3 separate regions of the Homo sapiens genome follow, and regions 1 and 2 are each reported to be linked to region 3. Evidence: microRNA targets listed by miRTarBase, many of them from high-throughput screens and not tested one by one. Region 3 holds a microRNA gene; each other region holds the end of a gene's coding sequence.
The links. Region 3 holds the annotated microRNA hsa-miR-223-3p (UGUCAGUUUGUCAAAUACCCCA, at 4,766-4,787, shown strand). A microRNA usually pairs through its seed, bases 2 to 8, with sites in the 3' UTR of a target mRNA and lowers its output. Matches are read on the target gene's strand: a 7mer-m8 pairs with bases 2 to 8, a 7mer-A1 pairs with bases 2 to 7 and ends in A, and an 8mer does both.

Region 1: the mRNA of SNX24 is a reported target of hsa-miR-223-3p. Seed matches in the 3' UTR shown: 7mer-A1 at 6,050-6,056 and 8mer at 5,701-5,708.
Region 2: miRTarBase lists TOX as a target of hsa-miR-223-3p. Seed matches in the 3' UTR shown: 7mer-m8 at 5,246-5,252.

Annotation. Positions count from the first base shown.
Region 1 is chr5:123,007,156-123,014,344 of GRCh38, reverse strand. SNX24 (sorting nexin 24) reads right to left here. Exons shown (of 7, transcript NM_014035.4): 7 at 5,140-6,663. The coding sequence ends at 6,596. LOC124901213 (small nucleolar RNA U13) reads left to right here and starts at 4,705; the gene lies at 4,705-4,803.
Region 2 is chr8:58,801,936-58,809,136 of GRCh38, forward strand. It overlaps TOX (thymocyte selection associated high mobility group box), which reads right to left. Exons shown (of 9, transcript NM_014729.3): 8 at 6,183-6,334; 9 at 3,477-5,848. The coding sequence ends at 5,812. Among named protein-coding and RNA genes, the nearest start is that of NSMAF, 150 kb to the left of the region's middle. RefSeq lists an enhancer at 6,015-6,309.
Region 3 is chrX:66,014,172-66,021,372 of GRCh38, forward strand. It overlaps MIR223 (microRNA 223), which reads left to right and starts at 4,699; the gene lies at 4,699-4,808. MIR223HG (MIR223 host gene) reads left to right here and starts at 1,290. Exons shown (of 3, transcript NR_170299.1): 1 at 1,290-1,380; 2 at 2,894-3,018; 3 at 4,653-6,255.

The sequences.
Region 1 (7,189 bases), not on the chromosome of region 3:
AAAAAAAAAAATCAGCTGGGCACAGTGGCGTGTGCCTGTAGTCCCAGCTACTTGGTACGCTGAGGTGGGATGATTGCTTGTTTCCAGGAGGTGGAGACTGCAGTAAGCCGAGATCATGCCACTGTACTCCAGCCTGGGCAACAGTGGGAGACCCCATCTCCAAAAAAGCACATAAATACAATTCTATTGTGAGGCTGATTAGGGACTGGATTCGCCCAAGCTTTATTAACTGGTATCCTTGGTCAAGCTATTTCACTTCTCTAAGCTTCCTTTTAATCACTTTAAATTGGAATAAGAATACACACATTTTTAAAGATGTTGTGAAGCTTCAATGAGATGGTCCATTAACATGATTTAGCCCAGTGCCTCTTGGCCCCTAAATTAGTATTCATTCATGTTAGCTACTATTTTTATTAATGTCTCTGATCTTCAATTTCTTCTTCAGTAAAATGGGGCACTAAAAACTACTCTGTAAAGAACTTAACGTGATAAAATATGCAAAACCCTAGTCCAACAATACATGACATCCAGTAGAAACTCAGTACATAGGAGTTCATAGGAGTATCTAAATGACATAGAATATTGTAGCTAGGGACACCAATGTCCTAGCTGTCACTGTAACTACTGTTAAGTGTAATGAAAACAGAAAATGGTTCACATTTTATAGGCCAGATTTACAACCACATTCTTAGGACACAAAATTTTCTTCTAGTAAATTAAGTGTATTCCAATGACTTAACATAGATAATATGCCCTCCTTCCCGTCACACAAAAATAGACCTTCACCCTCATCAGAATCCAGTCTGTCACTATGTATCTGCACAGACAGAAAACATAAACGTTGCAGACATTTTGGTTTTGAGTTACTGCCTGCTACTTCCCTGTGTTTCCGCTGCTGAATTCAAAATCTGTAATTATCATCAAGAATAAAAACCAAAACAAAGCCAAAATGAAAATAATTACTTGCAAGGAGTAGAGAGACTGGAAGAAGACAGCCTTAATCACTGAACTTTATGTCCAATTCATTAAGATGGAAAAACCCTTCCTAGTAAATGGCCAACAATTCCAGAAGGCAAGGATTACATCTGTATTCTTTAAGTAATTAACATAGTGCCTTAATCCAGTGGGGGGACCCAAATGCATTTCACTGAACAACTGAATGAATGAATATACAACTTCCCAATTATGTATAGTGCATCTATTGAGACCACTACCCAAACTTGTCCTTCCTGCTTCTTCAGGGTCTTTTCCTGTGACCTCATATAACAAACACCCCCAAGAGTTGAACAGATGTTCTCTTGGTACTGGATTCTGAAGGAGTTATGAAAGTCAATAAATAATTCAAGATGGCTAAAGGGTGGGTCATAAACCATCTCCATCAATTGGTGGTCCCTAATACAGGTGTGTATCAGAGTGAACTGGGTGGTGTTTCTAACTACCCAAGGACAGGTCTCTGGCCAGATTTATTGATTCAGAATCCCAAGTGATTCTGATGCAAATCTCTGGTTTAGAACTACTGTTTCAGGATTGTAGAGGTTGCCAGGGATGTGAGACTAGTAACTGGTATGTGTGCCAAAAGCTCTCCTGCACCCACGACAGACAGTGCTACCTGATCAGTACAGCCTTATTCTCTGAGCCTGCAGTCACTCAAAAGCCTTTATTGTTTTTATTGTGGTAAAATATACATGACATAAAATTTATTTTAACCATTTTTAGTGTACAATACTATGGCATTAAGTACATTACATTGTTAAGCAATGATCACCACCAGCCAGCTCCAGAATGTTTTCATCTTCCCCAGCTGAAACCTATTAAACACTAATTCTCCATTTCCTCTTTTCCCCCAGCCTCTGTCAACCAAAGTTCCACTTTCTGTCTCTATAAATTTGACTACGCTAGATACTTCATAGAAATGGAATCATACAGTATTTGCTTTTTTGTGACTGGCTTATGTCTCTGAATGTCTTCAAGGTTCATCTGTGTTGCAGCATGTGTCAGAATTTCCTTTTTATCCATTCATCCATTGCCGGACACTTGGGTTGTTTCCACCTTTTGGCTACTATGAATATATGCTATGAACATGAATATATGTATTAGTCCGTTCTCATGCTTCTATAAAGGACTGCCCGAGAGTGGGTAATTTATAAAGGAAAGAAGTTTAATTGACTTACAGTTCCACATGTCTGGGGAGGCCTCAGGAAACTTACAATCTTGGCAGAAGGGGAAGCAAACACATCCTTCTTCACATGATGGCAGGAAGGAGAGGTGCCAAGCAAAAGGGGGAAAAGCCCCTCATAAAACCATCAGATCTCACGAGCACTCACTCACTATCATAAGAACAGCAGCATGGGGGTAACTGCTCCCATGAGTCAATTACCTCCTGGCAGGTCCCTCTGACGACCTGTGGTGATTATGGGAACTAAGATTAATTCAAGATGAGATTTGGGTGGGGACACAGCCAAACCATATCATTATACAAATAGCTGTTTGAGTCCCTGCTTTCTTCTTTTAGGTATATATCCAGAAGTGGAAGTGCTGAATCACATAGCAATTCAATGCTTAATTTTTTGAAGAAGTTATACCATTTCCCACAGAGGCTGCAACCATTTCACACTTCCACCAGCAATGTACAGTTACAAGGGTTGCAATTTCTCCACCTCCTCACCAACACTTGTTATTTTCTGCTTTGATAGTAGCCATCCTCACAGGTGTGCCAGAATTCTTCTTGATGCAGCACTTCAAGCAGCCATTGTCAATCGATCAAAGTTGACAAATGAGATGAAAACCATCTGTTATTTCAAAAGTGTGATCATATTTCTCTAAACTGATTAAGAGAGCTCAACTTCTTTTCAATGGGAACTTATAACTGTAACTGTAGGATTTACCAGGTATTGATGGTCATGGTGATATTGGGGTTGTTCACATGGCTGATTGTAATGGGGGCAGTAACAAGGACACCAGGAGAAAGGACACGAGGGCTGCCAATATGCAGAATGAGTAGGCAGAGATGAGGCCTGAGAGGCACTGCATAAGGTAGCATCGAAGACAGTCCAGGCAAAACACCAAGTCCAGGAACCAGGCAGGACAAATGATGTCCCCACATCCTGACTTAAGTGGTAATGGGATTTTTTTTTTCCTTTTCCTTCCTCTGGTTTCCTTTCTCTGTCCTTTACTTCTCTATTGCCTGTGAATCCATGGTTTGAATGATTAAAGTTTTTGATATTTCCCCAAGTGCAGGGTTCCAAGCATGACTTGGAATACTATTAACACTGTGGTCCATGTGAATGACACTGCTTGGACTTGTGCAATGCACAACCTGTAGAGCAATATGGGCCAGGCATGCCTAGTGAAATCGAAAAGTAAAATGTCTATCAATATGGTAGTGGTTACACAAATTATAGAAGATCCATACAGCTTTTTTTTTTTAAAAAGAGAATAGCACTTTATATACTGATACAGAAAGATTGCCAAGATATTGTTAAATAAAAAAAAATAGAAAGCAATGGGTATTGCGTGCTACCATTTTTGTAAAAGAGGAGAAATTAAATATATGTACACTAAACATACAATATCTGCTTGTATGTAGATGAAATATTACTCAAAGTAGACACATTAAGTACAGACACATTAAGTACTCCCTTCTGTGGAACGGGAATTCGGTATTAGGAGATGAGATGGGAGACAAATTTATTTTTTATCTATAGTTTTATATATTTTTTATTAAATTTTCAACCATGGAAATGATGGAAATATGTTCTGGCTGGGCACGGTGGCTCATGCCTGTAATCCCAGCACTTTGGGAGGCCAAGGTGGTTGGATCACGAGGTCAGGAGTTCAAGACCAGCCTGGCCAAGATGGTGAAACACTGTCTCTACTAAAAATACAAAAATTAGCCAGGCGTGGTGGCATGCGCCTGTAATCCCAGCTGCCCAGGAGACTGAGGCAGAGAATGCTTGAACCCAGGAGGCAGAAGTTGCAGTGAGTTGAGATTGTGCCACTGCACTCCAGCCTGGGCAACAGAGCAAGACTCCGTCTTCAAAAAAAAAAAAAAAGTTCCATCATCTTTCCCATGTGCATTCCTGAGCTGTAGAAGGCTAGCAGCTTCTTCCCAGACTCCCTGCACCTGGGATGGAGAATAAGGTTCTACAAACTGGATGTGCGTTGAAGGGAGCTATGGAGTGGGAGGTGGGAGTGGGCGAATACCATCCTCCTGCCACTTTGGGCTGTGGTTGCTGGCAAGCAAGGCCACGGATGTTGATAGGCAATTGTGATGCAGGCCCAGTCACCAGCTTCCTGGGTGCTGCTATGAGGCCGCACCTCATAGAGAGATCGCCATTATATTTCCTGGGAGCTCCGTATCTCATGGAGATAACAGGTCCTTTTTGATTCTACTTGCTGATCCCTGGATTGCAGCTCTCATGCTGTTTACCTCAAGAGCTTCGCTCACAGCCCCCTAACTCCCTGTATTCCTGCTTACAGCACAGGCTGTAGCTCCCCAGGCAGGTCAGTGCTAGAAGTTGCTGGGGCATTCTGGAATTTGTTCTTGGACACCTACCAGGAGTGCACTCCTCTCACCCTTCCAACAGATTCTGTAAGCATTCAGTTTTCAGCATTATAGCCTTTTCTGCGTAAAAGACCTACACTGGTTTCTAGTTCCTTCAATAACCCTGACAGAATTACACATTAAAAGTTTAAATAGATATGATCCTTGTGTAGTGCATAAGTGTGATGACTGGGTTTTCCCACTCTTGTGAGGTGTGCCTCCTGCAAATCTTATGATGTCTGCATATGACTTGTTTGACATGGGAAATAAAATTTACATAAATATAAAAAGCGAAAGTCATCACTAAGAAAAAACTTAATTCTCAGAAAAGATTTCTTGGGCAGTGTACCACTATAGATACTTGGTTTTTTCAAAAAAATTCTTATTATCTTGGTAAATCATCAAATATTTAATGAACATCTACTGACTTAATAGATGAGATAATTTATTATAATAATTTATCTTATCATATTAGAAATAAACATCTATGTGAATGTGTGAGAGGTTTTGTGTGTGCACATATGTGTGTGTGTGTGTAAACAGACAGATACAAACCATGTTTCCAGTGAAATCTTAGGAGAAGACAAACTCAAATGTTTCCTTGTTCTGTTTTTATTTAACTCCAAATAGCTAATAACATAAAAACATTTTAAAAAAATCTCCAATACCCAACTATTACTTTTGGTTGACAACATTTGATTATTTAGTTCTTGCTTGTTTCCCACATGTAGTACAGAATCTATCATAATATTTTAAAAGTTTGCAGCAGGCTTAAAACCTGAATATTTAGATCCTAATCAAAAACCATGATGTAGTTATTAGTTTTGATTTTAAATACCTTGCTCCCACAGAACTTACTAAAACGAATAACCATAAATAGGCTAGCTATTAATTAGATCTCAATGAAATGCCCACATACAGCACATACATATAGGTAGTATATATGCTTTTATCCTTTACTACTCAAAGGATGATGTACAGTGGAGTTATATCATAAACACATTTAACTTACATTAACTCAACAAATGAGGTCAGTGAAAAGGAAGCCGTAAGGAAAATAACATGAAATCCTGTGGCGATCCCACCTAAAATGAATGCACACCCTTGAGTAAACCCAGGTGGGTGCTGTCCATCCGCTGGGTGGGCGCTTCACTCCTTGTCAGTTCACATCTGCCACTAGCGGGGCAAGCATCTTGCGGGCTGATTCTAGTGTTAAAAGTTATGTGCTTTTTTTTTTTTTTTTTTAACAAAATGGCCCCTAAACAAACACCAACAACTTCACTTGGTCTTCAAACAAAGAAACAGTCTTTTTTTCCAACATAGGAGGAAAAGCTACTTGTTGTGGATGTACAGGTTTCCAACATGGCACCCTTCTAAAGGGCTTTCAAGGATCATCCTAATAGCCCATTTTACCTATGTACTGACCTTGGAAGCTAACCCCTGAGTATGATGCAACTCCACTCTAATGTAAATTAAAATGCCATGATCTTAAAAATGCCATAATATTGTCAGTATAATTTAATTTCCAGTTTAGTTCCATCTTCACATTTAGCAGTGTGTGTCTGTGGCCGTCTCCTGGTGCCAGCATTTCAGAATGTACTATCACTGGCTGAGAAAATCTCACGGTGAGAAGAGTAGTGTGTCATAAGATCTGAACAAAAAAGCTACCAAAGTTGATCAGTCTCAGTATGATTCAGGATATGATTTTCAATTAGCAAATGGTGCGACTGAAGCAGAGAGTGGCTTTGTTTTGCTACACCCAGTGCTCCCAGGAATCTCCTGTGGCCTCCTTTTCATGGGTTTCTACGCTGGCAGCTACACTCTACTTCTTAAACACTTGGCCTTAGCCTGACCACCGCCCCGGTTCAGTTTCTATTTTTAAGAGCACCATTCTAATGGAAATGTCCCTGCCCTGAATTAAGCTGGGACTGTGCACTTTACCACTAGCTAGAGCTGTTATATATCATAGCGTTTAGGTTAAATTGGTAGGTATTGATTTCCTTGACTGTGACTTCGAAACTTGCTTCTGCTTCTTTTAGCCATGTAGGATTTCTACCTGGGCTGTAGATGAGGGTAAAATATCCCATGGAGGACTCCTTCAATAACCACATTTGGAAAATCTGAAAAAAAGAAAAAAAAAAAGAAAAAAAAAAGAAAAACTGCTTTTCTTATGTGAAACAAAATATAATTGCATTCTGTAGAATGGAACAAGGCAATGCTTACGGTAAACACAGGAATCTGCATCGCCAGGCATGTGCCTGGTTGAGGATGTGCTATCAGTCATGCTGCTTCAGCCTAAAGCCACTTGAGCACACCACCAGGCGCGGCAGGAATGTGCGGCCAGATTTGTAGCTTATTGATTTAAGGGATGTTCTAACAGTTAATGCTGCTAGGCCTCAGCTCTTTATCTGAATGTTTTCTCAAAAGGAAGATGGATTACACTGGCAATTCAATTTCTAACAAAATCTCAATATACTTGAAGGAATTCCAAGATTTCTACTGGGAATACCTCACTGCAGTTTTTCCATTGTGGTTTACAGTGCATTTAGTCCAAGTTGTCCTGAGTCTACTTGTTCCATTAGACTAGCTTCGAAAGAGAGCAGTAAGATGGGGGTCAGTCTTCCTAACTTAAAAGGGCAAATTTCC
Region 2 (7,201 bases), not on the chromosome of region 3:
TTATGTTTGGGCTTATTGTAAACATACAATTGTCAAACAGGGACGCTCCAGACTTTAAAATACTGTAGTTTGGTTCATACTCTTTCTTTAGAATGGGATTTTTGTTTTCTCTGTAGTATCGTAAGTCTTTCCATTTTATTTTCTAGTCACTGTTCTTTTCTTCTGGCCTCATGTCAGTGTGAATAAAATTTCACTTTCAAATGTCTTTGCTAGCAAGCTGTTAATAAAATGTGAAATGATTCCTGCTGGTGGGCTTCATTAATTAGGCGCAACTCTGACCGTGCTGAACTATAACAGGTCATTGTTCTCAGTTGTCTCTCATCCGGGAACAAGAACTTCATCTTCACTTCTTCTCATCTACTACATTGCAGGCTGATGCTGGATACAAATGACAAGATGTTTGGCTAAGTATGAAATGAGAAGGCAAAGTCTAATCTCTCTGTGTACACGTAGATTGCCAAGTGTGTCTAACTTGGGTTTGAAGTTACCTCTTCCTCCCGCGGCTCCCAGCCTTCCTCCTCCGTGGTTGGTGAGGTTAGGGGGCTCCCCATCCCCTTTCTCCAAGCAATGGTCTTGTGTACAGATTTGGAGACTTTTTTTTTGTTAGGAAAGGTTTTCCACACTGGGAAATCGTTCCAAATAAAAGTAGAGAAATCGCCTTTGAAAATCCTAAAAAATAGAACCAGGAAATACAGTCTTTTCCTTGCTTCACCAAGTCATACTAACACTTGGTAATTAGAAAAAAAAAATTCAGTATCCTGTTCATCAATAGTTTAATTTAGAATCCATGAAACTTGTCTCCTGAATGTTCTCTCTTGTGTTTGACACCCTACATGTCTAGCACCTCTTTTCTCCCTTCTTATTTTCTTGGTGAGACTAGTGTGTATTAGATCTTTTACTTTTGTCACAAATAGAAAAGCTCTTGTTCAACTATGTAGGCCAAAAAAATATGGCATAACTCATTTTGAAATTCTTTCAATCTTTTTGTAACCCTAGGTTTTTAATGAAACATTTGCATCTTCACTCCTAATGCTTGCCTGTAATATTCAATTCCCATCTATATTTAAAGAGCCTTTAAATCATCAAGAAAACACCATACAATTCCTGTTGAGGATAATTGATGATGTTTTATTGATCTTTCTTTGTATCATTGCATTTTTTGTGCATCTACTGTGTGCTATGACATTCCAAATTGTTTTGGAGATAAGGAAATTGTTGAATTTCAGGCAGACAAAGAGATTTTTACCATGGGGTGACTCACATGAATTCAACCATTAAGTGGAAGGGTGACTTAGATTTAGAGGTTAAACTCATGATACGAATTTTTAACCTTGCCTTGCCACTATTTTAATATTTAATAATCAGCAAAAGAGATGAATTTTCTGTTTCTATCCTTCCTTGAAAATAACAATTATGGCTGGACACGGTGGCTCATGCTTGTAATCCCAGCACTTTTGGGAGGCTGAGGCACGTGGATCGCTTGAGCCCAGGAGTTCAAGACCAGCCTGGGCAACATGGCAAAACCCTGTCACTGCAAAATATAGAAAAAAATTAGCCAGGCGTGTTGGCATGCACCTGTGGTCCCAGCTACTTGGGAGGCTGAGGTGGGAGGATTGGTTGAGCCCGGGAGGTAGAGGTTGTGGTGAGCCAAGATTGTGCCACTGCACTCCAGCCTGGGTGACACAGTGAGGCCCTGTCTCCAGAAAAAAAAAAAAAAAAGAAATAAAAGAAAAAAAAAGAAAATGACAATTATGAGTGGAATAAGAAAATGTAGGTCAAATCTCTATTTAACGGATAAACATGAGGACGTCTATGTTTAACAAAAACTTTCTGTTCCAGCAGATAACCTATTTATTACAAATGTTCATATGAATTTTTTACTATAACAAAGAAATATGAATGGCTATTGGGATTTACTGGTAATTTAAAATATTCCTTGTTTAATATAACATACCTGTCTAGGACTCATTCTAAGTGGGGTACCTTGTAAACAAACATAATTGATTATTCCTTTGAGCATTTTCTCCCAGGACTTTGTAAAGTACTTCTAATTCCATTTGAAATTACATATCAAGTTATGGTCAAAACCCCATTGTCTCTAATTCCCACACCTTTTGGTTGAATCATATGAAATTACCATTTCATAGATAAAACAGGTCAAATATTAGCAATTTCATATGGTTCAGTCTAATCACTTTTCCAATGAGTGGGACAACTCTTTTGCAAAGGGCAAGAGATCCATAGAAAAGGGATTGGTTGTTGATGTGCTAATTTTAAGTCATGCATTCATAAGTTTAAGAAATATCTTAGTAATGAATCTGAGCCAGAGTATACATTGACCCTTGATTAACAAGGGTTTGAAGCAAGCAAGTCCACTTATGTGCAAATTTTCTTTCATCTCTGCCACATCTGAGACAGCGAGACTAACCCCCTTCTTCCTCCTCCTCCTCAGCCTATACAATATGAAGAAGAGGATGAAGACCTTTATGATAATCCACTTCCACTTATTGACACTAGTTAATAACTTATTTCTCTTCTTTATGATTTTCTTAATAACATTTTCTTTTCTCCAGCTTACTTTAAGAATACAGTATATAATACATAAAACATAGAAAATATGTGTCACTCAACTGATTATGTTATCAGTAAGGCTTCTCCTCAACAATAGGCTATTAGTAGTTAAGTTTTGCGGGGGTCAAAGTTGCATAGGCATTTTCAACTGCGTGGGTGTGGGGAGGAGTTGGTGCCCCGACCCCTGCATTGTTCGAGGGTTGACTGTATTGCTTTGGTGGCCACGGCTTCCCATGGACTGCTTGTGGTCCATGCAGACAGGCCTCTTTGCGTTTAACACAAATAATAAAAATAATCACAGAGACCAACTTCATCCTTGGCTATAATTTGACTAACTGGAAGTCATTATTTGACTCATTTTGCCTTATCAACTCGGTCACATTTGAATGGGAATCAGGATTTTTGAATTATTCTTTCTTAATCATTTCTCGATTATGTTAGAGACACAACTCAACCCACTCCTACACACTCTCGCAATTTTTTCTTTTTCTAATCAGCTATAATTTTGGTTTTGGTGTGTTGGTGAAGAAATCTGTCGTTCCACAGTGTTGCTGTTATCTCTCAGAATGACTTTACTGATGGTGCTGGAAATCTTCGGAGTGCTTCAGCAGAGAACTCGGCGTGCACCCCCACTGTTCCTCTCAGCTACAAGCTCCAAGCCGCTGGGCTACTGTGCCCAGGGTGGATTCTGGCTTTCTGAAAGATGGGGATTTCCTAGGCAACAGCTCACTATACTAGAGCCTCAGGTTAGTGAGAGGGCATTCTCAGAGTTTCAGGAAAGAACATTTGTGGCCATGGCGGCCATTAACCCCCACTCTGCCCGATCACTTCCACCATAAAATTTATTTGGGATTTCTCATCTGACTAGGCTTGCTTTTTAGAGACTGATGGATCACCAAATAGAATACGGTCACGCATAATAACAGTTTTATTGATGATGTGTTTTCTTTTATTTACATTTGTTTTTACTGTATTTGGTATTGAATTTCAACACTCTCTACCCTGGTCGCACAGCTGCTCTAGAAAAGCTGTAAACAACACGGCACTGTGCTTTCCTGCACAAACCGCCTGTCAAAGTCAAAGCTGCTCATTCTCCTCCCAGTAATTACCTTCTCAGTTTAGACTTAATGCAAGTGAAATTTTTACTTTATCATAATATAATAAATAAAAGACATTAGTTAATTAGTAGTGCTGGTATATTTCTAAAATACTAAACAGACAAACAATAAACTGTGAACTTAATCACATGAGTTCTTATACAGTTTCAAGACAGGAAAATTAGAGCTCTCAGCTACAGTCATTTTAATAATCACATGGATCTGCATTATTTATTAGTTATTACATGCTCAAGTGATTCAAGGTTGTACAATGCCTAAAATCATTCCAAAGCAAGCATACCTTTTGTCTGTTTAATTCTGAGTGGATTACACAATGCATATATTTGTATTTAGTTAAACTGCTAAATTTATTTCACATATTCCAAGAAAGAGACATCAGCCATTCTCTTGGTTTCCAACCAGACTAACTTTCTTGATATGATCCCCTAAAAAGGAGTAAATCTGCTAGCTTTTTCTTTTTTTAATGTGAAAGCTATGCAAGCCCTCAGGCAGATTCTCAAGCACTTTTGGTTCCCTAGCAAATCTCTGGTACCTTAAGAATCCTCTTGGAAGACCCAGGAATTCTGGAATGAGTAGTAGCTTGTAGAGGCACAAAAGACAGCAAGAATCTCAATTTCTATCAACAGCTTTCAAATTTGGATGGCTTTCCCTTTTCTTTTGCTATCTGGTTACTCACCTTTCATTTTTAGATGCTTCCCTTTCACTTCTTCCAGCCCCTAGTTCAATTCTTAAATGCTTTCTGGATTTTGTGAAAAGCATGCAGCTTGAGGAAGTTTGGTTTGACTTTTACTTTTTTGCGGGGGGCGGGGGGTGGTGGTTCAGAATTGACTAGAACCAGCTGAGAACCAAGAAGTAACCTTTTTAAGACAGAGGACCTGTCTGTTTGTTTAGTCTTGGAGCTTGTGTGACTTGGAGGGCAATTCTGTTATGTCGTATGAAGAAATAAAGTTCTTAAATATAATAGTTTTTTGTTTGCATCAACCAAAGAAATGCAGAAATAAGGACTGGTTACTTTAATTTGCTGCTAAATGAAAAGCAGGTTTGGCTTTATTCATGTTACTGTAAAAACTAAATAATAAAGTATTCACACCAAGCGTGAATTTTTTTTTGCCAGCAAAAGTTAAAACATCAAAGAAACCTCTTTCAAATACTAACAAATTTACTTACAAACACCTATATTTATTATTTCATAAATAGGCGCAACAGGTTCCATAAAAAAAGATTAAATACAGACACAGTATGAAGAAACAATAAGACAGAGCCATATGTAAAAGTTGTAATTTAGCTGTTTCCAATCTGTTTCTGCATCTAATAAAATACCAGGTAAGCATTTGGCAGTTTTATACATAAAAGGACTTAAATGACATTTACTAACCATTACACAAAAAGTGATACAAAAAAGCAATTTTTCTGCAGTACAAAATAAATGTGTTTGCGCTTCCCTTAATACTAGTTTCTTTTTGTCTGATCAATGAGACAAAGCCAATTTGTTTTTAAATTAAAATCACTTGGGAATACTTTTTATTTTCAAATATTTTGAAAATATAGAACTATCAGTCAGTTGTTTTAAAAATGAAGTAAAAATATGAATGTTTGCCAATTTAACCCCTATTGTGAAATCAATAAACTGGAATGAGCCAGTTTCAATTACAATTTAGCTACAAAAACATTCACATTTTATACTCTAGGAGAGTGTAACATAGATGCTATTTACAAACTTGCTATGACTGCTACATCAAGCCATTTAAAAAGTCTTTAGTAGTTTCATATAAACACCCATTATGAAAACCAATGGAAAATCCAGGACTTTTATCCGAGACATCTACAGTTGCTAAGGCAGTTACTAGAGCGCAGCACTTCACAGCAAAAAACCAACATAAAATCTGAATGGTCCAAATTTCCTTCAGGGAAGAAGAAAAACAATGTCCATAAAGGATTAAAAAAATAATAAAGAAGCATGACTATTTCTTCCAGAGTGGGTGACCCACAAGCTCAAATGGTCCTAAGTGCTTAGCAACTTGTATTTTCTAATAAAATGGAGAACTGCCTTGACTGTACAAAGCAATCCATGGTGAAAACACTTCCCTGAATTCCTCAGTGGAAAGAAGAGGTGTTCAGATTCTCAAGTAAGGTACAGTGCTTTGTCCCTCTGCATGCCCCTGTAGGAAGAGAAAAAAGACAGTTCCTTGTTACAGGACAACCTGTGCTACAGGTGACAATGGGGGGATGGATGTCTTTGAATTATTTGCTCCAGCTTGAGCTGTTCACTGGGAAACTGCAATTAGTTAACCTACATCTGAAGTGAGAAGTGAGCTAAAGGCATTTATTCTTGGAAGAGCTAGAAGACTGCTTAACAATTTCTGGTGTCTTCTGCCTTCATGAACGTGAAACTATCCCGGATCATGTTTTTGGAAACAAGAGAACGATCAACTAGGGACGATATGCATGCTATGAGCGCTGTCCACCACCAGGTGGCGATGACCGGCCGCTTACCCACTACTGCAGTAGTCGTTATTCCAGTCCACCGGTTGTGGGGGAGGATTTCTGCACCCCGAACGCACATACTCCATTGCCTGGGTGACAACTTGTGCAGCTGTAGATGTAGGATTGATAATAGTCTGATAGTCGGGTTGAAGAGTAAATCCCTGAAAGGGAAAGCAAGTCCGCAAATAAGGATCAAAATGCATTTTAAGAAGAAAAGCACCTAAATATTTATTCATTCTTTGCAGACACACTAGGCCTCTTGCTTCTGTCTCTGCAAGGGCAAGCCTGTCGGAAGAGCCCAGAAAATTTAAAACAAAGGTAGAAAAGAAATGCCCACAAGTCCATTCTTCTTACCTTTCCTTCATTTAGCCATGAGTCAGAAAACCTTTAATTATACCCTTGAGCAGATAAATTGAATTGAGAAACAATTTCAAATATAGAGGAGCCAACTCAATCAAAACAAAGGGAGAAGAGGGCCTAAACCCCTCAAAGTTTATGTTTTCTATCAAACCTAAGGATACATTAATAGTTAATCCCCAGAATATGCAACAGAATCTTTTTTGAAGGATTCAGGCAGCAGGTGGCTGAGTGTTTTATTAGACTACACCTATTCACATATTGTTCTCAAACCTCTTTTTCTTCATTCAGTCACAAAGGGACCATCTGCTTCTTCTTTTATTTGTATTTCTCTCTCAGCTAAAAAATTTCAACCAAAGCTTTTTAACAGTTGTTGGACTAATACAGGGAAAAGAGATTCAAAACGACTTGCCATTGGAAAACACGGGGAGGGAAAAGTGTACGACAGAGCAAATATTTTTTAATTGAAAAGTCTATTAACTGGCAAACAATAATCAGACTTCAGGAAGATTCTTCTAATACACTGGCATGGTGAAGTGTTGACTTTTAATCCTAGCGAAGCTATTAAAAATTCAAGGACAGAATCTCTGAAGTGTATAGCTATATCTGGTAAACAAAAAGCATTCTATACTAAGATTTATTTTTAGCTTCTCTGGTGAATTCAAGATCAA
Region 3 (7,201 bases):
GTCATTGAAAGCTATCAAAGTATAACCTGAAAGCATTGCCCCTCCCATCCTTCATGCCATCAGAATTCATGGTGGAGGGCACTGCATGATGGGAATTCATCATCTTCCTGGCTGTTAGTGGGGACTTCCAGGAGACTGCAAACATGAGGCATTAAGAAACCATCCACCTTCTTTTCACACCTTTCATGTCCCTCATTAGCCTGAAGGTCACAGTTGAACTTAGGGGTCTGGCACTAATTTTTCTTTCTCAAAGTCAACTACTTTCTTCTCCCTTCCTTGTAGCCAATGTGGGAAAGTAGACGAAAACCTCAACATTTGGAGTTAGACCTGAGTGAAAAATCTGCCTTCTCTATTATTTTCTAGTTTTGTTTCCTTAGACAGGTCACTTTATTTCTGTGTGCCTCAGTTTCCTCACCTATAAATAAGAATAATAATACCATACCAGAGAGTTGTTGAATAAATTAGATAATACACATGAAAGAATATCATAAGTACTCCAATAAATGTGAATTTCCTTATTTATTTCCTTCAGCAAGCCCCAAGATGACAGAATGTGGCTTGTGGTCATAACTGTGCCCCAGAGCCAGCTTCATAGGCATATGACTTGTACAGCTTCACAGGGCTCCATGCTTAGAAGGACCCCACACTTAGTTTAATGTTCTGCTGTCATCATCTTGATATTCTTAATTTTTAAATAAAGGGCCTATCGTTTTCATTTTTTACTGGGCCTTGCAAATTATGTAGCTGGTTCTGTATGCCAGGAGAGAAGTTGGAAGTAAAATGGTATTCCAGGACCAGGAGGCATTCTGGCAGAGTGAAAGAACATGTGATTTGGAGTCCATGGGGATGGGTTTAAATTTCAGCTTTCCACTAATTTGCTTTGTGATACTGAGTATTTCCTTTTATCCCTCAGAGGCTCTGTTTCTCAATTTTGACTACGGGTTTTTTCATTAGATAATGTCTCAGTTCTGGTATTCCAGGTTTCCCTCAATTATTCTGGGAAAACCTCCTTGACCCACAGGCAGAGCCTAGGGCAGCCAGGTGCTTTCTACTCTCTCTCTCTCTGCAGCTTGGAAAGTTAGTGTCTGTTGAAGGTCAGCTGGGAGTTGGTGGAGGCAGGGCAGTGGCCTGCTACTATTGCTGCAGTAGCAGACCCTTTCACAACAGCATTGTTTTGTCATTTTGCATCCAGATTTCCGTTGGCTAACCTCAGTCTTATCTTCCTCATTTCTGTTTCCTGTTGAAGACACCAAGGGCCCTTCAAAACACAGAAGCTTCTTGCTCACGGCAGAAAGCCCAATTCCATCTGGCCCCTGCAGGTTGGCTCAGCACTGGGGAATCAGAGTCCCCTCCATGACCAAGGCACCACTCCACTGACAGGTATGGTATCCATTTGCCCTCTCTTCTTGGATTCTCAAGCTGGGGCAGAGTCCATGGCAGCCAAGGGTGGCTTGGATCTGCCCATCCCATTCTCTTCAGACCCTCCTCAGGGATTAAGGTCAAAGGTGGGAGGAAGAAGGCTTCCATTGGCCTTTTATCCTAGAGGTTCTAATGGAGGGGAAAAGGGGATAGGATATTTTCTATCCAATCAGGATGTTTAGGAGATAGTCACATGGAAGTGGAATGGCCTTTGGACCCAGGAGTCAGGAAACCTGAGTAGCAGTCCTGGTTTTACCATTTACCCAATGTGTATCTTTGGGTAAGTCCTTTCTCCAATCTAGGACACAGTTTTTTCACCCCTTTTGCAAAATAAAAAAGTAAAAAGAGGAAAAGAATGATTAGATAGATGCTGTCTAGAGACCCATGGTTATTAGATTCCTAATTTTCATGATTGTCAGCCCTCTGTCAAGAAAGAAGATGAGAGTAATCTTTGCATATGTAACTGTGGGTGGGGCTGAACACATTCAAGAGGAGAGTGCTGGTGGTAATCCATATAGCACTCTCTGAGAGGCATGACTCAAAGATGAAAGCCTCTTTTCTAGTCCAATCTTTGACTCCTAGAGATTCAAAATTGAAAGACTCTTAGAGACTAGGTACATATGGAAGAAACTGAGGTCCAGAAAGAGGAAGAAAGGGACTTGCCCAAAGTCATACAGAGAATCTGTAGCACAGCTGGGTCTGGGCTCCCAGGTCAGTCCTCTTTTTGCTCTATCCTAGGAGGACTGAGACATCAAGCAGCAGGACCTGTCCTGTAACTGACCCAGGACAGGTCCTGCTCATACTAGAGGCAGTCTGGGATTTTTAGGCATGGTCCTGAGGACTTCTTCTTTTCTTCTATTTTTCTTTCAGGTACTTGGCTCACTCTGAGTGTTCAGAGATTCCTAGACACCTACTTACCCCTAATTCTTCTGGTCTATTCCCTCCAATTCCCTCCATAAAAACTGACCCATCCTTTGCATCAACAATAGTGGCTTGATGACGCTCTTCAGTAGAGGATTTTGCATTTCATATGGGGAAAAATGATGTTATTCTAAGTAATATAACAGACCAAGAGAAGAGCTTTCAAATTCCCTTAATATCATCCCATATAGATATTTATGTCTTCTTTCTATGGGTCTGGTGAACATTTCTCAACTGAATGTGATTTTCTTACATACACTCCATTGGAGAGGCATACCAGTCTAGTTTCAGCTCAACCACTAACTCCTTCCATTAATACTGAAGCAATGTTGTCTATAAGGCTCCACAAATTTCAAAGTACTAATAATTTTTAGCCCCTTTCATGCCTCCTTTCCAGCCTTTCTGGAGGTGAATAAAGTCAGAAAGTGCATTCAAAAGGCTGTGAACACCTCCAGCTTATCTAGGTCTTCTTACTGGAGCTGACAGCCAATGAGTGTAATGATACAAAAAAGGTAACAATCCATTTCTTTTTCTCCTGCCATCCCCAACTCAGACTCTGTTAATCAGCTTGCTTGGCTGGCCTCCAACCATAGGTCCAGGGGCTGAGACAAGGTCCTTTTGAGCTCCTATGTGGGAGGCTCTGGAAAGCTTAGCAACACTTTCCAACAACTTTGCCAGGTAAGTAGGTAAGTCTCCTTGTTCTCATTTCCAGAGAAGACAACTGAAACCCAAAGAAAGACTTGCCCAAGCCATGATTGGCTAGTTGATGGCCAAGACAGCATTAGAACACAAGTTTGTCGATTCTGTCATGCCATATTTGGTGACCATGACTGCTGCTTTTGCTGCTGGGTGGATTAGGCTGAATTGGGTAGGTAGAAAAGGAAGTGAGGGAGTGAAAGAGCTTTAGTTTTGAGATGACTGCCAGAACTTAAATTGAAGGAGTATGTTACCTTCTTAACATTCAATTAAAAGAATAGAGCAAGAAAAGACACTGATTGTTTTCTTGCTGAAAGACAAGGCTGAATCCCTCTGTCTTACCTGGGCTGGGACAGGGCTTTCCGGCCTCATGGGGGCAGTTTACCATTTCTGGTAACCTTGTGATGTTTGCCACTTTTCATGACAATATTTAATGTAGACCAGCTACCTGCTCACAGATCAACTGCCACAGCTGGTAAGGGCAGTAATTTGACACCAGCAACCTGGGATTTTTAGCAACAGGATCTGATTGTTGCCAAGGGAATTCTCCCAGAAGTTTCAGACCTGACCCTGCTCCTGGCAGCTTCCTTATTGCCCTGGTGGCTTGTGGGTTCAGTGATCCCAAATGTTGCATTACAAAGCTATTGCCTGTTTTTGCCCTCTTTGTTGATGTGTCTTCCCTTTCCCAGAGGGATATACAGAGAAGGGAGGCAAAATAACCAATGAGGAAAGCTGTATAAGGCATACTGCTGAACTGTAAAAAATTTATTGTATAAACTTTACAAGTCTCCTCCCCAACAGGAGCCTTTGTTATCTCATTTATAACCTAAGTGAGTGAGACTAGATGATCTTTAAGGGCACTTTAATAGCTGCCATTCTTGAGTCCCTATGGGACAAGAGGATCATGTTAGGCAAGGCTGAGACCACAAGAAATCAATGTCACACCTGTCCAGATCCTGCTAAATCAATTGCCAATAGCTCTTTCTTTCATTTTGGTCACACAACCACTACTTTTTGAGCATTTGTTATGTATTGAATACTGAACCAAAGGCTTTACATGCATTATCTCCTGTCATTCTCACAATAACCTTATGAGGTAGGTATTATACTTACATACATTTTGTGGGTGTAGAAAACTTGAGCTCAGAGAGGTGAAATGATGTATCCAAGGTTGCCTAACTAGCTAATGGAAGAACTAGGATTTAAGCTCATGTTTAACCTCAAAGCCTATGTGCATAACCACAACACTGAAAACACAGCTTGGGAGAATTGAGAAGAGGGAGCAAGGATGCTGACTCTAGGGTCTGGTACTTTCCTCAAGTCAGGGAGGCAGGATGATGACCAAATTTTCCCCTCTCTGCTGCATAGAGGAACCCACTGAAGCTTGGGACCCCTAGAAATGCCATAGCTACAGGACTCAGGCCTGATGAGCTTCCAGCTGAGCACTGGGTGTCACTCGGGCTTTACCTGCTTATCTTCAGGATCTCTCTTCTGGTTAGGAACCCTATGCCTATTTTGCTCACTTCCCTATTCTGGTGCTTTGGTTGGTCCTTTGAGCAAGATCCCCGGGGCTAAGGGTGTGACTTCATCATTCCTTTCTCTCTCTTTCCCTCTAGGGTCACATCTCCCAGGAAGATCTCACTTCCCCACAGAAGCTCTTGGCCTGGCCTCCTGCAGTGCCACGCTCCGTGTATTTGACAAGCTGAGTTGGACACTCCATGTGGTAGAGTGTCAGTTTGTCAAATACCCCAAGTGCGGCACATGCTTACCAGCTCTAGGCCAGGGCAGATGGGATATGACGAATGGACTGCCAGCTGGATACAAGGATGCTCACCAAGCACCAAGTTCTCACAAGTTATTTTATGTGACTTTGCAGGAACTGAGGCATTATATCTGAGGACACCAGGGGAAAAGTGTGGCATCTCAGGGAAATACAGCCCTGGGCTGTGTCTACACACACCATGAGAGTGCTGATGGGGGCGCAATAGTCTTGAAAATGTATAAAGTGTCCAGGAATGGAAGTGCTCTTTGATTCATTATTATTTTCTTCCTTCATATTCCCCTCCCAGAGTCTCCTATCTAGGACATCAGCATTCTCACACAAGCCTAATGGCTTATCTGAGTAAGCAGGGCTTAGAAATTCACTTTCTTGATACTCAGTCTTGCCTTCTAAACACTCCTTGATCTTGCCTACCTCTCCCCTTTTCCACATGTCTTTTCCTGTAGGAACACTTTCTCCATTTATTCCTGCCTATCCAATTCTTCCCTATATTTCCTGGACCAGCTAAAGTCCAGTGTTTCCAGAGACTTTTGAAAGTCAACTTACACTTTTTCCTTCTTCATTCACAAAGCTCTTCTTCCCTGGGCCCTGGTATGTATGCCTTTCTCTCCTACTGTCTAATAGCACCTCGTAAATTGTCAATGAACTTTTCTAAGGGGTATTCTTGAATTCCCAACTAGATTGTGAGCTTCTGGAAGACAAGGCTATGTCTTTGATTGTTGTCTCCCCTACCACAGCCCAGTACTTTAGTTACAGAAAATAATAAATATTTACTGATTGATTGACTTTCCTCTTGTCCACTAGCTTTAGGTTTGGGGGCCAAATTCTACCCTGGATTTTGAAAAATTCAAACTGTGAACACCACAATGTTATAGAGCATATGAGGTAGTAGCCAGCATGAAGGATGTTTTCTTCCTGAGAAACAGTGTCAAGGGCTGGAGGAAGAGGGCAAAATAGCAGACTCAGAGGGCAAATAAATTTTGGTATTACTTGGTCACACAAGGTTATACAGGTGTTTTCTTGTAGGATTTTTCAGAGCCTTTAATAGTCTAATGTTGCATTGAGAATCTCAAAGAGGAAACCATAGAATGAGGCATTTGCCATACCTATCTGATCATGAATTTTCTTTTCCCCCACAGCCTTCTCCTGTGTCAATGTCCAATGAAGCACGATTTGGGAAACTGTCCTAGAGAAACTTTATACCTTCCCGCTCTTCTGGAGATCTTTTCCTCTTTTCATTCATCTACTTTCCCCAACCAGCCATCTGCCTAAGAAAGGTCACATGTTATCATCTCATTTTTGTTTAGCCTCTGCAGCTGTGGACTATCTTTATTACATAGGAATTCTTTACTAGCTTGTCCTGTATTTAAAAATATTCTAAGTTTTGAGGCAAAGAAGATCCAGATGCTGCAATAAATATATGCACTGAGGAGTTCACAGGCCTGACTTTTGGTCTCCTTTCTACCACTAACTGTGTTTTTGTTCCTCTCTGAGCTTCATTTTCTCATCTCCAATACGGAAGTATTAGAATCAGTGATCTCTAGGCTCTTTAAGATTAATGACTTTGAGATATCCCTGGGAGTCCTTAGCTCTTATGGAGCAGCGTCCCTGGATGTGTGGCTCCTTTTACCAGTGAAAATGCAACCAGGATTCTCTTCCCAACACCTAAAACTCACTTTTTCTATGGGTAGTAGGGAAAGATAATGGGTATTTTCAAAGGCTGTAGGGTCTGGACGCAGAGTTGTTTCATGAAGGAAGTTGGGGTTTCCACTGGGTGGAGGCCCTATTTCAGAGGCTTGTAAGCACGATGGGGAAGAAAGAGTTGTTCCTTTCGCCAACTAGGAGAAGCTAGCGTCTGGAATGAGGAAAATGTTGAGGTTTTTACCCTGGATTTGGCATGTTGGGTGGCGGTGAAGTGGAGGACTCCTTTTTGTTACTTTCGTGTACTATTTTGACTTCTGTAATCATTGCAAAAGGGGAGCAGCTCCTTGTGAAACATGAGCTGACCTAGGGGCTGCATGGGAACCAGAAATAGCAACATGGCAGCTTCCTTGAAGAGTGCAGAAGTTGATTTGACATTAATTACATCGAGAAAATAAAACTGTGTCAACCTGGGTCAGAACAGGTCCTCACAGCGGAGCCTGATTTAAAGGTGTAGGAACTTATGTACACATACAAACTCTCTCTCTCTCTCTCTGTCGTGCGCACACACACACACACACACACACACACACTCCTAGCCCTATTCCTCCTTGAAGAGAAAGGCTTTCTTGCTCTTATCCCCACCTCACATTGTAAGAAGGGGCCAGGAGCTAAAGAAGATAACATATGAAAAATGCAACTACCCCCAGGATTTTAAGATTCAAAGAAGTGGAAATCCTTGGG